Linked DNA regions of Homo sapiens. The protein of the gene in region 1 purifies or fractionates together with the protein of each later gene. This does not show direct contact. Each region holds a gene or a part of one and is shown on either strand. Other genes may lie near its edges.

The links. The genes of interacting proteins can lie anywhere in the genome.
Region 2: the proteins of INTS12 (region 1) and P2RY8 purify together in Homo sapiens (co-immunoprecipitation; one large-scale study listed by IntAct). This does not show direct contact.
Region 3: the proteins of INTS12 (region 1) and ALDH3A1 purify together in Homo sapiens (co-immunoprecipitation; one large-scale study listed by IntAct). This does not show direct contact.
Region 4: the proteins of INTS12 (region 1) and ZDHHC11 purify together in Homo sapiens (co-immunoprecipitation; one large-scale study listed by IntAct). This does not show direct contact.

Annotation. Positions count from the first base shown.
Region 1 is NC_000004.12:105,691,646-105,695,489, reverse strand, and holds part of INTS12 (integrator complex subunit 12), read left to right. Parts: intron 1-2,003; coding exon 2,004-2,191; intron 2,192-3,354; coding exon 3,355-3,514; intron 3,515-3,844. UniProt on the Homo sapiens protein: Component of the integrator complex, a multiprotein complex that terminates RNA polymerase II (Pol II) transcription in the promoter-proximal region of genes.
Region 2 is NC_000023.11:1,526,918-1,530,761, forward strand, and holds part of P2RY8 (S-geranylgeranyl-glutathione receptor P2RY8), read right to left. Parts: intron 1-3,844. UniProt on the Homo sapiens protein: G protein-coupled receptor for S-geranylgeranyl-glutathione (GGG), an endogenous metabolite present in lymphoid tissues.
Region 3 is NC_000017.11:19,738,031-19,741,874, reverse strand, and holds part of ALDH3A1 (aldehyde dehydrogenase, dimeric NADP-preferring), read left to right. Parts: intron 1-664; coding exon 665-782; intron 783-1,397; coding exon 1,398-1,539; intron 1,540-2,200; coding exon 2,201-2,367; intron 2,368-2,779; coding exon 2,780-2,879; intron 2,880-3,421; coding exon 3,422-3,552; intron 3,553-3,639; coding exon 3,640-3,654; 3' UTR 3,655-3,844. UniProt on the Homo sapiens protein: ALDHs play a major role in the detoxification of alcohol-derived acetaldehyde. They are involved in the metabolism of corticosteroids, biogenic amines, neurotransmitters, and lipid peroxidation.
Region 4 is NC_000005.10:847,919-852,222, reverse strand, and holds the start of ZDHHC11 (palmitoyltransferase ZDHHC11), read left to right. Parts: upstream 1-1,236; 5' UTR 1,237-1,620; coding exon 1,621-1,842; intron 1,843-3,562; coding exon 3,563-3,741; intron 3,742-4,304. UniProt on the Homo sapiens protein: Endoplasmic reticulum-localized palmitoyltransferase that could catalyze the addition of palmitate onto various protein substrates and be involved in a variety of cellular processes.

The DNA of each region.
Region 1 (3,844 bases):
AAGAAAGTAAATTAGTTGTTCCATAAGCAGAAAGAAACAATGTTTTATGCCTATTTCTTTTATATAATAATGGGTATAGGTATATAATAATCAACACTCAGTGAATATATATTGATAGCTATAGATTTTGACTTTTCAAAAAATGAGTAAAATTTACAAATTTTAAAGTTAAGTGGTTAAAAGTTATTGTCAATAAATATTTGAGTCCTAGGGAGTATAGTAACTTTGAGTGTAAACTTTAATCTATGCCTCAGAGATCCTAGATGGAACAGTTGTTAAGAAGAAAAGATAGATACACTTTGGGAGGCCGAGGCAGGTAGACTGCTTGAGCTCAGGAGTTCAAGATCAGCCTGGGCAACATGATGAAACCCCATCTCTACAAAAAATACAAAAATCATCTGGGTGTGGTGGCATGCACCTGTAGTCCCAGCTGTTTGTGGGCGGGTGGGGGGTGGGAGGATTGCTTGAGCCCAGGAGGCAGAGATTGCAGTGAGCGGTGATCGTGCCACTGCACTCCAGCCTGGGTGACAGAGTGAGGCGCTGTCTCAAAAAAAAAGGAAAGCAAGAAAGAAAAGATGGGAAAGAGTATAGATGTAAATGACTAAACATAAACTTTATAGAGTGGTATGCACCTGAACAGTGCCAAAGATGATTCTTGGATTGTCTATTTTTAGATGATTTCTACATATAGTAATTAAGATTTTAGTAGTTAGAAAAAAATACATTTGAAAGATATCTTCAGTAACCCTTGCCCTCAAGATGGAGTATATTATCCCGTATGTTTTCATACTTTTGCTAAATAGTGGCTATTCATAAACTACATTAGATTATTTCTCTGTTTTTAGATCTACATAAGTGAAGCTGGGTGTGGTGGCTCATGCCTGTAATCCCAGCACTTTGGGAGGTCAAGGCAGGAGGATCACTTGAGGTCAGCAGGTCGGGAGTTGGCCACCCTGGCCAACATGGCAAAACCCCCTCTCTACTAAAAATACAAAAATTAGCCAGGTGTGGTGGCGCACACCTGTAGTTCCAGCACCTCAGGAGGCTGAGACGTGAGAATCACTCTAACCCAGCAGGCGGAGGTTACAGTGAGCAGAGATTGTGCCACTGCACTCCAGCCTGGGCAACACTGCAAGACTCTGTCTTAAAAAAAAAATTATGTAAATGTTATCATACTGTGTGTGTGTATATCCTTTGGTAACTTTTTCTCCACTCAACTATGTGCTTTTGAAATGTATCTTTGTTAATGCATGTAGATCTAGATTTCTTTTAGCTACTACATAATACCAGTTTATCATTCCCCTACTGATTTATCATAGGGGAATGATTAACCAGTTTATCATTCCCCTACTGATGCACAATTAGATATTTCTCCTTTGTTTCTATTACAATGGAGTTTGAGTGAGCTACTTTATACATATGTCATGTTAATAGTTTCTATAGGATGTATACCTATAAGTGAATATAATAGGATATGACATCTTCAACATTACTAGGCATTGCCAAATTTCTATCAAAAGTAGATGTACTAAATTTACACTGTCATCAACAAAGTATAAGAATTCCAAATTCCATGTCTTATCAGACTTTTTGATTTTTGCCAAATCTAATGGGTATATTGATAATATTTATATCTTAAAGAAGGGAATCCGAATTTGCTTTGAAGCAAATATGTGTTAAGTCTGTATGGTAGATACTAGTCTAAGTAAATCCATCGATCTTCCATAATTCTTTAGTAGATAGAAGAGTACAAAGAGAAATACAAATATTTGTTAAACTGTTCTGATTTATTTATTTCTATCTTGCTGGTTTCATTTAATATACTAATAAATTCATTGCAATTCTTCTACAGATCTTTAATGTGCACATCTGTCCCTAACTATGTGAATATATCTGTAAAATGGACTTGTTCATTGCCAATTGTCCTTCTCACTCGTCTTTCAGTGACTTAAAGTTTATTCTACCACATTACTTTATCATTTTCTGATGCCTGCTTTTTATAGATGAAATCAGACATCACTGAAGGAGTTGATATTCCAAAGAAACCTAGATTGGAGAAACCAGAAACACAGTCATCTCCCATTACTGTCCAAAGTAGCAAGGATTTACCTATGGCTGACCTTTCCAGTTTTGAGGAGACCAGTGCTGATGATTTTGCCATGGAGATGGGATTGGCCTGCGTTGTTTGTAGGTAAGTTGTACCTTGCCACAGATTCTTTTGTTACTTTATAAAGAACACATGACCCTTTCCACTCCTCAACCCCCAAAATCAGAAAAATTGTTGTGCATTTTCTATTTTGTTTTTACTATTTGGAACTGGGGTGGAGATAAGTAGGTAACTGCCCATATAACAATTTAGCATATTGAAAATTGTCAACTATTTTGTCTTTCCCAACTATGGCTTTTAAATCTGTTATGTTGTAACATTTTCTGCATTTTTGGGTTCCAGAGGGAAAGTGATTATTATATTATGATATATATGCCTTTGATAATCTAAGGCTATGGTGATTGCTTTTTGTGCTGTTGAAATTTATACTTTTTTATACACACATGGCTTCATTCTATTAATCTGATCAGACATTTATTGAGCACCCTATGTGTGCACAGTAATGTGCTAAGGACTGTGGATAATTAGGTCCAGTACTCACCTTTAGGTGACTCATATTAATGAAGAACAACAACAACATACAGCTAACTAATATAAGGGAATTTAATGGAGATACAAAATGTTATGAGGCTGTTGGAAGACTAATCAGAGTCTACTACCTTCTGAGAGAAAGGCAAAAATTATGACGAGAAATGACGAGAAAATAGCCAAATTTAATTAAGGCATTCTATATATTTATTAATGGTTGACCATAAGCTTTAAAAGCTTATGCTTTTGTGCATGCCAAGTGTTGGGGTTTGTTATTTGCTCTTTGGGTTTCTGGGATTTTTTTTCTTTTTAATATACCAAACTTTACCAGAACAACCTGGAAATAACTTTTTTTTTTTTTTTTTTTTTTTGAGACAGAGTCTTACTCTGTCACCAAGGCTGGAGTGCAGTGGCATGATCTTGGCTCACTGCAGCGTCCATCTCCTGGGTTCAAGCGATTCTCCTGCCTCAGCCTCCTGAGTAGTGGGGATTATAGGTGTGTACCACCATGCCCAGCTGATTTTTGTATTTTTAGTAGAGACAGGGTTTCACCGTGTCAGCCAGGCTGGTCTTGAACTCCTGACTTCAAATGATCCGCCTGCCTTGGCCTCCCAAAGTGCTGGGATTACAGGCATGAGCCAGCACACCTGGCCCCTGAAATAACTTTAAATTATGGCATTTAAAAAAGTAGTGTAATGTTTAATGGTATGTTTTCTTAGGCAAATGATGGTGGCATCTGGCAATCAATTAGTAGAATGTCAGGAGTGCCATAATCTCTACCACCGAGATTGTCATAAACCCCAGGTGACAGACAAGGAAGCGAATGACCCTCGCCTGGTGTGGTATTGTGCCCGATGTACCAGACAAATGAAAAGAATGGTAGGAATCATATTTTTCTTTATTTTAAACAGTCTGTCAATGTTTTTGTTGGTATGTGCTTTCAAAACAAAGATTTGAATATTTAAGATATTGAAAAAATAAATAATATAAGCTGATTATTTATTTATATGTATAGTATGTACATGTGATTAATATTTCTATTGCTAAAGACCAGACCATGTTATGTGCATTTTTCTCTTTTTAGTTTTATCTAATTCTAATATAGATAAAACAAGATTGGTGACACACAAATTATGAATATTCCTTACTAGTCTGTCAATGTATTGACAAACATTTTAAAATACCATGCAGCACTGAGAAGTGGTGAGA
Region 2 (3,844 bases), on another chromosome or scaffold:
AGTTTCACTCCTGTTGCCCAGGCTGATGTGCAACAGCTCGATCTTGGCTCATTGCAACATCTGCCTCCCGGGTTCAAGGGATTCTCCTGCCTCAGCCTCCCAAGTAGCTGGGATTACAGGCGCCCACTACCACGCCTGGCTAATTTTTGTATTTTTTAGTAGAGACGGGGTTTCACCACGCTGGCCAGGCTGGTCTTAAATTCCTGACCTCAGGTGATCCGCCTACCTCAGACTCCCAAAGTGCTGGGATTACAGGCGTGAGCCACCGCGCCCAGCCTATTCATTCATTTCTTATCCATCCACCTACCTATCCATCTGTTCATCCGTCCATCTATTTATTCATTCATCTACTCATTCATTCATTCATCCACTTATTCATTCCTTATCCATCCACTCATCTATCCATCCATCCATCCATCCGTTTATCCATCCACTTATCCATACATCCACTATTCATTTGCCCATTCATTTATTCATGATCCATTCATTCACTCATTCATTTATCTATTCATTCATTCATTTATTCCTTATCCATCCACTCATCCATCCATCCGTTCATCCTTCAATCCATCCATTCAGTCATCCACCCATTTATCAATACACCCACTATCATTCACCCATTCATGTATCTATTCATTCAATCATTTATTCCTTATTCATCCACCTATCTATCCATCTGTTCATCCATCCATCCATTTATTCATTCATCTACTCATTCATTCATCCATCCAATCATCCCTTCATTCATTCATTCATCCACTCATTCATTCCTTATCCATTTACTCATCTATCCATCCATCCATCCATCCATCCATTCATCCATTCATCCACTCTTCATTCACCTGTCTACATATCCATCCATCCACTCACTAATGTACTAATCCACTCATTCACTCATTCATTCATTTATTCATTCACCCATCTATTTATGCAGCCATCCATTCAACCATCCAACAAACAGTACTGAGGCCATGTTAATCTATTCTGGTCTCTCATCTACAAAGTCACAGCCCCTACAGGGACCCTGCTCATTCATTCCCTGTGGCTGAGACTGAAGGGGTATCTCCTGTTTCTATTCCACGTGTGGCCACCTGCTGGTCTGTCCCTGTCCTGAGTGCAGGAGTAGTCTCATTCTCCTCCACCCCAAGAACAGATGAGTGATAAATAAATACCTGGAGACAGAATGCCTCCAACCCCAGGGTAATAGCCTGAGTATCCTAGAAGTTTCCTGTGTTCATGCCAAGAGCTTGTGATGGACATATGGACACTGTAGATGGACAACAGCGCCTTCACTGAGCAGCTAGTGCCTGGGAGGCCTCCAGCTTCACTGAGCCTCAGGTTTCATCTATTGCATCTCACAGAGAGGCTGTCTGCAACATGCCCATTTCAACCACTGGCTGAGAGGCTCATGCAGGTATGCATGTGACAGGGCTCCTTGCTGGAGAGTGGGTTCCTGGAGATTCCATCAGAGCTACTGCTGCACAACTGCCCCTTGAGGAGGCCATCACAGCTCTGAGCAGCAGGCGCTGCCAGTCAGCACCGTGTGAACTCAAAGTCTTGCATTCATCCTCATACGACATCTTCAAAACCACTTTAAACGTCCCAGGGAAGCCCGGAGGAGCAAGTGCTTCCAAGAGGCTGGCTCTGGTCTTTGGATTGAGTGTGGATTTGAGTCTCTTTGAATGAGTGTGGATTTGAGTTTCTTTGAATGAGTGTGGATTTGAGTCTCTTTGAATGCGTGTGGGTTTGAGCCTCTTTGAATGATTGTGGACTTGAGTCTCTTTGAATGAGTGTGGATTTGAGTCTCTTTGAATTCGTGTAGGTTTGAGTCTCTGAATGAGTGGACTTGAGTCTGTTTGAATGAGTATGGATTTGAGTCTCTTTGATTGCGTGTGGGTTTGAGTCTCTTTGAATGAGTGTGGATTTGAGTCTCTTTGAATGAGTGTGGACTTGAGTCTCTTTGAATGAGTTGGATTTGAGTCTCTTTGAGTGTGGATTGGAGTCTCTGAATGTGCGTGGATTTGAGTCTCCTCATTCCTGCACTTTTTCAGTTCCCTTTGTTGCATGGGACAGTATAAATGACGCTCCCCATTGATCCAGTTTTGCAAGTAAAAATGTCACATGTGGAAGCCAGCATTTAGTCCTCGGGCAGATAAGCATGTTTGATGAGAATAACACGTACACACAGCGGGGCCCTTGGTCTTGGAAAGGTGGAGAATAAATCCTCCATTTCCCCTGAGACCTGACCTGCACAGGGAATATCTGCTTAATCTACACATGTGTGGCTTGTAACGACAGAGTCTCTTCAATTCTACTTACTTTATTATAGTAACAAGAGCATGCATACAGCACATTGGGAGATGGAGAAATGGAAGGAAGTGATCCAGAGTCCCTTGACCCAGCCCATTCTCTCCCTGAGACCTGGGGGATGGGACATGATCTTGCTTCTCCTTCCAGGTCTCTGGAAGGATCATCTTGTCTTATCTTGCCTGCCTCTCACCCTGTGGTTCAGAATTGCGGGAGATTCTGTTCCAGTGGGGATGCTTGTCTATATCTTGGGCAGTTTGGGGTGTCACAACTGGAGGGTGTACTCCTGGGGCGTGGTGGGTGGAGCCTGGGAAGATGCTCAGTGCCCTGCAGTGCACAGGATAGGCTCAACACAGAGAATCCTCCAGCCCTACATGGCAGCAGTGCTGAGGCTGACACCCTGCCTGAGCATGAGAGAGTCTCTGTTAGTGACTATCTATCCATCTATATCTATCTATCATATCTATCATTTATCAATTTATCTATATATCATATCTAGCTCTCTGGCACCTATATCTATTTATTTATTAATCTTCTCTGTCTGTCATCTATCTATACCTTTCTAGCATTTATCTCTCATCTCTATCATTTATCTGCCTACCATTTGACAGTGGTTTCAACTAGGGGTGATTTTTCTCATCACGGCACACTGGGTAATGTCTGAGGACAGTTCTGGTTGTCGCAACTGTGGGGGTGCTCCTGGCATCTGGTGGGTGGATCCCGGGGATGCTTCTCAATACCTTACACTGCACAGGATGGCCCCACCACAGAGAATCACCCGGCCCCAAATGTCTATAGTGTTGACGTGGAAAGATCCTGCTTTTAGTATAGAGAATCTCTCCTCTCTCTCTCTCTCTCCGTCATCCATCTATGTATCCATGTATCTATGTATCTATGCATCTATGTATGTATGTATGTATGTATGTATGTATGATCTATCTATCTATCTATCTATCTATCTATCTATCTATCTATCTATCTATCTATCTATGTATCCATGTATCTATGTATGTATCTATCTATCTCTATTACCTATCATCACCATTATCTATCTATCTATCTATCTATCTATCTATCTATCTATCTGTCATCTATCTATATGTATGTACATATCTATCTATCTTATCTATTGCTCATCTATCTAGGTATCTCTCTAATCTATCATCTATCTCTCTAATCTATTAATGCACCTATGTATGTATCTATGTATCTATCTATCTAATCTATTTATCCATGTATGTATGTATGTATCTACCTATCTAATCTATGTATGTATGTATATATGTATCTAATTTATGTACGTACATATGTATGTATCTATTCTATCTATGTATCTATCTATCTGATTGATCTATCTCTCTATCATCACCATTATCTATCTATATGTATGTGTGTATCTATCTATCCTATCTATCTATCTCTCATCTATCTATGTATCTCTCTAATCTATCATCTATTTAATCTATGCATCTATATATCTATCTATCTAATCTATTTATCCATGTATGTATGTATCTATCTAATCTATGTATGTATA
Region 3 (3,844 bases), on another chromosome or scaffold:
GCAGAAACTTACATGGGGGTAGGGGTGGGGACCACATGCACAGAAGACGTGTGGGGAGTCCCAGAAGGCTTCCTGGAGGGGGAGAGGTCTAGGCTGAGCTCTGTTTGCTGAGTGCGCATCACTGGGGAAGTGGTACTCCAAGCAGAGGCTGCAGAAAAAGCAGCTGTGGGACGTTCAGGACACAAGGAACTGTACTGGGTTCAGCCCTCTGATGGGGCAGGGCAATCTGAGTTCTGGAGAGCAGGCCCAGAGGGGAGAAGGGCCACCGCTGCTCGGGGTCTGGGGCAGAACCCGTATCTGCACCTCCTGACCCTAGCCAGGGCTCTGACCACCTCCATATCCCACATCTGTGGCCCCAGAGATGTAGGGGGGCCCGAGTAGCAGTGACACCTGGCTGTGCAGGACAAGGGCGTGATCAGGGAGCACGGAGGTTGCCCTCAACAGACGTCCTCTAGAAATTCCCCACCAGTCGCCGGTGAACATGATCAGGGCCATTGGGTCTGCTCGGTCCAGTGTCTAGAAGTGAGCAGACCGCTTGGGAGGACTCACTGGTGGCAAGGTCACAGCCGATGGCTTCTGCTGACCAGAGAGCTCAGGGGTCTGCAAAACGAGATGCAACTCCTGGGGAACCTTTTGGATTTAGTCCAGTCTGGGATTCTCACAGACGCATCGCCTGGGGGAAATTCATGAACAGTGGCCAGACCTGCGTGGCCCCTGACTACATCCTCTGTGACCCCTCGATCCAGAACCAAATTGTGGAGAAGCTCAAGAAGTCACTGAAAGTGAGTGTTGACCCCTTGGCAGGGTGGGATGAGAGGCTGTAAGGCACAAGGGGGGCCTGGCCCCTTAACCAACTTCTACAGATTTGGAAACACTGGATTTATTTTCTTCTAATATAAACATAATGCAAGCTAGGCATGGTGGCTCACACCGGTAATCCCAGCACTTTGGGAGGTAGAGAGTGGAGGATCACTTGAGGCCAGAAGTTTGAGACCAGCCTGGGTAACATAGCAAGATCCCATCTTTACAAAATATGTTTTTAAATTAGCCAAGCATGGTGGCATGGTGGTGCATGCCTGTTGTCTCAGCTACTTAGAAGGCTACGGCGAGGCTGGAGCATTGCTTGGGCCCAGGAGTTTGAGGCTGCAGTGAGCTATGATTGCACCACTGCACTCCAGCCTGGGCAACAGAACAAGACCCTGTCTCTAAGAGAAAAAAAAAAGATAATGCACACTCACTATAGATTATTTAGAAAAGATTAAAAAGCATAAAGAAGAAAAAAGCTCCACCCAGAATCCCACCACCCAAAGACAGACACTGCTGGCCTGTGTCTGTGCAGCCTTTGGGCAGGACGAGGCTCTGCGTCCTTACCCGAAGCCCCCACCTCTTCTCCACAGGAGTTCTACGGGGAAGATGCTAAGAAATCCCGGGACTATGGAAGAATCATTAGTGCCCGGCACTTCCAGAGGGTGATGGGCCTGATTGAGGGCCAGAAGGTGGCTTATGGGGGCACCGGGGATGCCGCCACTCGCTACATAGGTGCGTGACCCCTGAAGAGCACAGCCCACCTGCCCAGGCTGCAGGGGTCCCCAGCAAGTTCACAGCAAGTGGGCACAGATGCTTGATAAGCGGACACGACCTCGGGATGGGTATAAATTGCTTTCACCAGGGAGCCTGCGGTAGACTCCAGCAGGCAGGGGCTGAGGACAGCCCCTGCTTCAACCTCAGAATCCCCTCTCCCAGCAAAGGCCCAGAAAGAGGGGCCTCATCTCCCTGCCCCTCTGAAGCAGCAGGAGCAGGGACAGCAGAAGCCACAGGAGCCCCAGGTGTGCCCAGCCGTGAGGGGCCCCCAGTGCCCAGGCTGTGGGTCACCAGATGGGACCCTCTTGGCCCCGAGTTTGTCAAGGAGACAAGAGAATTCTGGCAGGGCATCAGGTGGCCGGCAGGTGCAGTGCCTGCTCCTGGAGACAGATCTCGGGTCCTTCCGTACAGGTTAACCTATAGTTGTCCCCAGTGGTCTGCTCAGATGGCATCCAGGACGCAGGTGCCTAGGGTACCTCTCTGAGGCCTCGTCCCTGCCCTTTTCCAAGCCTGGGCAGGTTTGCCTGGAAAAGGGTTGGAGCAGGGGTCTAGGTGCTTGCACTTTCCATCCGCGTGGGGGTCTCTGCGCCGTCCAACTCTGGCTTGTTTCCTGCCTCAGCCCCCACCATCCTCACGGACGTGGACCCCCAGTCCCCGGTGATGCAAGAGGAGATCTTCGGGCCTGTGCTGCCCATCGTGTGCGTGCGCAGCCTGGAGGAGGCCATCCAGTTCATCAACCAGCGTGAGAAGCCCCTGGCCCTCTACATGTTCTCCAGCAACGACAAGGTGGGTGGTGGGCCTGGGGTGCCCTCTGCCAGGGTCCTGGGGCCCACAGACCTGGGTTCAAACTGCAGCTTCACTGTTCTCTGGCTGTGTGACCTTGGGCAAGTCACTGGATCTTTCTGAGCTCCTTTCACCTCGTCTGTAAGATCAGGACAGCAGCATCACCTGAGGGCACTGAATGAGCGATCCTTGCCCAGGGCCCTGCACACAGGCATGGGGGCGGCTGCTGTCACTCTTTGCTCATGTGGTGCTGACAGCCACGCGGTCTGCAGGAAGAGCAGGAGATGGAGGCTAAGGCTCTGCCTCCACCTGCTCCTGTCCTTGTGGCTCCAGGCTATACCCAGGCAGGGTCGGGTTGGGGGCTGGGGCATCCTGTGGGCAGGAGACTGAGGCCAGTGGCTGGGTCCTGGTGCAGGTGATTAAGAAGATGATTGCAGAGACATCCAGTGGTGGGGTGGCGGCCAACGATGTCATCGTCCACATCACCTTGCACTCTCTGCCCTTCGGGGGCGTGGGTGAGTCTGGGGCTGAGCTTGCTGCCTCCCTCTGGGCCCCAGGGCTGGGCACACTCACCCAGCAAATTCAGGAGGGACCACCTCCTGCAGCCCGGGCGGCAGCCTCCCATTAGCCTCTTCCATTTGGACCTTGGCCTCTGCGTGCCATCCATCAGACACACTTAACCTGGGAGCCTAGAGGTTCCTAGAGGTCACCTGGTGCACCGGCCTATTTCATGGAGGCCTGAGAAAGGTGACCCAGGCCAGAGGTCACACAGCCATTTAGTGGCAGAGCTGGGATTAGACCCTTGCTGGGCACTCCCACAGTGTGGATGCCCTGGGGACACCCTAGACATTGGCCACCCTCAGGAGGCCCAGAAAAGGGCCACAACCTGGGGCTGGGTGCTGAGGGCCATAGGATTTGAGGGAAGGATGGGTGATGGTGGCTGGGGCTCTGCCTCCCTGTCCCTGTGGTTCTGGGATACACCCAACAAGGTGGAGAGGGAAACCTGGGGCGTCCTGGGGGCAGGATGCTGAGCCCTGTGCTTACTTCTCCTCCGCAGGGAACAGCGGCATGGGATCCTACCATGGCAAGAAGAGCTTCGAGACTTTCTCTCACCGCCGCTCTTGCCTGGTGAGGCCTCTGATGAATGATGAAGGCCTGAAGGTCAGATACCCCCCGAGCCCGGCCAAGGTGAGAGGGGGAAGGCGCTGTGGGGGAGACCGGGCTGTGCGGGACCAGGGCCTGGGGATCACTGCCCACTCCGTGTCCCTTTCACAGATGACCCAGCACTGAGGAGGGGTTGCTCCGCCTGGCCTGGCCATACTGTGTCCCATCGGAGTGCGGACCACCCTCACTGGCTCTCCTGGCCCTGGGAGAATCGCTCCTGCAGCCCCAGCCCAGCCCCACTCCTCTGCTGACCTGCTGACCTGTGCACACCCCACTCCCACATGGGCCCAGGCCTCACCATTCCAAGTCTCCACCC
Region 4 (4,304 bases), on another chromosome or scaffold:
AGGTTTTACCAATGTGACTTGGCGACATCATTTCTGTTTGTTGGCACTTTCATTTGGGTTTTGTTTTTAACTGGGAATTGTGTTTTTAATGTACAGGGTTGTCTTTCTGTGTTTCTATTTCCTTCCTTGGTAACTTTGACTTTTCTTTCTTTCTTTTTTTTTTTTTTGAGATGGAGTCTCCCTCTGTTGCCCAGGCTGGAATGCAGTGGTGCAATCTTGGCTCACTGCAGCCTCGACCTCCCAGGTTCAAACGATTCTCATGCCTCAGCCTCCCGAGTAGCTGGGATTAGAGGCATGTGCCACCATGCCCTGCTAATCTTTGTATTTTTAGTAGAGACAGGGTTTCGCCGTGTTGCCCAGGCTGGTCTGGAACTCCTGACCTCAGGTGATAGGCACGCCTCGGCTTCCCACAGTGCTGGGATTACAGGCGTGAGCCCCCGCGCCCGGCCAAAGAACCATGGTCCTGTTTCATAACTGTGAGTCTCTCGGGTCTCCCAGAGACATTCTTGTGTGACTCAAGCCCCAGGGTCCTGTGGCCCCGCATCCGCCTGGTGTCACATTTAGAGGACCAGGGAGGAGCCACCAAAGGCAGCGCAGAGCCACTGTATCATGGACGTTCACGACTGCAAGAACGAAGAATTGTTAACTATTTCTCAATGTCTCTCTTCTCAAAGAAATACATTTAATATCAACTTCATTTTCTGAAGGTTTTTTCCCAAAGAGACAACAAGGACTTTGAGCGAGGCATAACGTGGCGAAGCTTCCTAACCCTCCTCTGTAGAGACCGCCCAGCCCCTCAAGATCAACCCCCCACCCCGTAGCGGCCGTTGAGTGTCTTTCACTGCCGCTCTGTGACACCACGTCCCTCCCACCCCTGCCGCCCTCCCCACCTGACTGGCCAGGAGCAGCCGCAGCGTGTTCAGAACCTCCCAGCCACTGTCCACCCGGGCGGAGACCCCAGCCCCGCGTGGCTGGACGGGCTTCCCTGTCCTGTGGAAGGGGAGACACACAGGACCCTGTGAAGTGAGCTCTCGGGTCCTGCTCCTCTGGGAAGCTCAGAGAAGCCTCTCAGGGAGGATCTGGCAGGTTTCAGTGTTGCACCAGTGAGTAACGGCTCACGAGCTCTTCAGGCATTGCCTCAGTTTCTCACAGGCGCAGCCCTCTGCTCAGTGTGGCCTCTTTCTGACGTGGGTTTTCTTCTTGCACCTGGGGAGTCCTGGGTGGGCCTGTGTATTCGTGAACGGGTTGTGGGACCTGTCGCTGTGTGGGGGCTGTCGAGCACTCCCCAGAACGTAACAAATCCTCAGGGGAACTGATGGGCGGTCGCGCGGGCACTGGGTCCTCCACACCCTGGAGAGCCGTTTTCCGTTGCCACTCGGCTCTGGCCGGGGTCACATTCTGCAGCATGTCTGTTCATTCCCCTGGGCGGGGCCCTGCACCGACTCCAGCCCAGCCCCTGCTCCCTCTGCGGGGAACGTGGCCCCAGGCAGTGCTGGGCCATTGGCTGTCAGTGCTGGTCCTGGCGGCTGCATTCCCAGTCCCCTTGGTCTCTGTGACAGTGGGCGGGGCCGGCCCTCCCAGGATCTGACGGCGCAGGTCCTCCCCTTCTGTGTCCTGCAGATGGACACCCGCTCCGGGAGCCAGTGTTCCGTCACCCCAGAAGCCATACTCAATAATGAAAAGCTGGTCTTGCCGCCCCGCATCTCCAGAGTGAACGGCTGGTCGTTACCCCTGCACTACTTCCAGGTGGTGACCTGGGCTGTCTTCGTGGGCCTTTCCTCGGCCACCTTCGGGATCTTCATTCCCTTCCTGCCTCACGCGTGGAAATACATTGCCTACGTGGTATCCTTTTCATCGTGGCATGGTCTAAGCGGGAGGGGTTCCTGGAGGAACTTGCGATGGACCTGGCTGTGGGGTCTGGGCCATGGCTGCCCGGTGGCACCAGTCACCTGCCCTGGGCCAGACTATGTCCCCTGAGCCTGCAGGTGGGCCCAGTGGCCACTCATGCTCTGTGCAGCCCCTGCTTAGGGTCAGGACAGGACAGCGTTGGCTGAGGGGGCTCCGGAGAGGGAATCTGTCAGGAGGGACAGCAGCCCCCTGGCGTGGCGCAGGACCCGCCCTGCTGGCAGCCTTCCGCTAAAATCCCTGCGCAGCATTTTGCACATGGCCAGCACCTTTCTCCTTGCCCCTGGTGCCAAGGAGGAACAGCGCCATGCCCCGCAGGTCGGCAGCCTGCGTTTCCATGCCAAGCTTAGGCCACACTGCGAGGGCCTCTGGGCTGCCCTGCGGAGATGGCTGTCAACCCTGAACTCCTGGCTAGAAGGCGGTCCAGGGGCCAGGCAGGGTGACTGGAGGGCCCCGCACTCCACCCCTTCTATTTGGTTGCCATGGAGAGTCTGTGTTTGTCCCAGGGTGAGAGGAGGAGGGAGCCAGGATCTGAGGGCGGGAGCTGACGTCCCAGGCACGGGGAGCCCAGCTTCTCCTGGCTCCAGGGGACAAGGATCCTCTCCCCAGTGCCCCCGCAGCCAGGCTCTGAGCCCAGAGGGCCCAAGAAAGAGGCCCAGGGTCCCTGAGTGAGTCTGGGGTCCTCGAGAGAGTCTGGAGTCCCCGAGAGAGTCCGGAGGGGCCCTGAGGGAGTCTGAGGGGGGTTTCCCTGAGCTATTCTCGGGGAGAGGGTCCCTGAGTGAGCTGTCTGGGGTCTACAGGGAGCGGGTAGGTTGTGCAGCTCCCTCGCTCCTCCCCCTGCTCCTCCTGTCTGAGGCTGTCTTCTCTCCCAGTGCTCAGGGGTCTCTGGTATGAAAGAACCCAGGCTCCTCCAGGGCCTTTGGGGCTGCATCCGGCTGTGTTTATACCTGGGATGTCCCTCCTGTGGCCCTGCTCTGTCCCTCAAGCTGTAAAGGGTTTTGGGGTCACTGTGCTTGGCTGGGCTGACTGAGCCTCTGGGGGTGCGGTACATTCTGTGGGGGATTTGCCCTGTGTCCAACAGGGATGAACCAAAAGGGGCACGGGGGCAGCCTTCCCGGTCCCCGACTGGCACAGGGCTGTGTATGCAGGGCCAATGGGTAGCCTCATCTTCTCTAGGCCTGGGTAAGCAGGGCTGTGTGTGCAGGGCCGACGGGTGGACTCATCTCCTCTAGATCTGGGTGAGCAGGGCTGTGTGTGCAGGGCCATGTGTGAAGGGCCGGGTGTATAGGGCCGTGTGTGCAAGACTGGATGAGCAGGGCCATGTGAGCAGGGCCGGGCATGGGTGAGCTGGGCTCGGGTGAGCAGGGCTGGGTGTGCAGGGCTGGCTGTGCAGGGCTGGCTGTGCAGGGCTGGGTGTGCAGGCCCAGGTGAGCACGCCCAGGTGAGCAGGGCCAGGCGAACAGGGCTCAGTTGTGCAGGGCTGGGTGTGCAGGGCTGTGTGAGCAGGGCCAGGCCTGGGTGAGCTGGGCTCACGTGTGCAGGGCTGGGTGAGCAGGGCTGACCAGCGGCCACGCCTCTTCTGGGCCCTTGGGCCTCACGGGGACGCCTCGTGCCAGGCTGACCAGGCCCTGGGCCAGGTTCTTCCTTGACATGCCAGGTGACCGGGGGGATCTTCTCGTTCCACCTCGTCGTCCACCTGATCGCGTCCTGCATCGACCCGGCCGACTCCAATGTCAGACTCATGAAGAACTATTCTCAGCCCATGCCCCTCTTCGACAGATCAAAACATGCACACGTGATCCAGAATCAGTTCTGCCACCTGTGCAAGGTCACCGTGTGAGTGCCCGCCCTCGCCGAGGCCCCAAGGTGTCAGGGTCACCTCCAGGGTCCTGGTGCTCAGGTCACTGCTGGCCCCTCAGGGCCCGTGCCATGGCCGCAGCTGATGCTAGTGGAGCTTCCAGGGCCCGGCCCTGTGGCTGCGGGTGGATCGCCCCTCATCTCGCTGTGAACCGGGCGCGGTGCCGGGCCGCCCCAACTCCTCCGCAGGCAGGGCTGAGACTGGAGGGCTGGGTCTGTCACCTGCAGGTGACCCGCTGCTCCCCTGGAATGAAACACAGCAGCACTCAGGCATGTTTGGTCCTCAGTGGATTTTGTGCACGAGGTCCCTCCCCTGAGGGCCCAGGGCAAGAGAGCACTGTCTTTCTTGGGGAGTTTCAAGACAAGCCCCTAGGAAAGTGGGAGGTAAGGGTTCCAGTGTCTCCAGGGGCCCTGGAGGCCTCTGTGATGGCCTAGGGGTTGGCTACAGGGCTGTTGTCAGCTGCAAGGGAGGCCCTGTAGGCACAGGTGGGATCCAAGCCCCCGGCCTCAACTCCTGGAACCATGGGGCAGGCGCGGCCTCC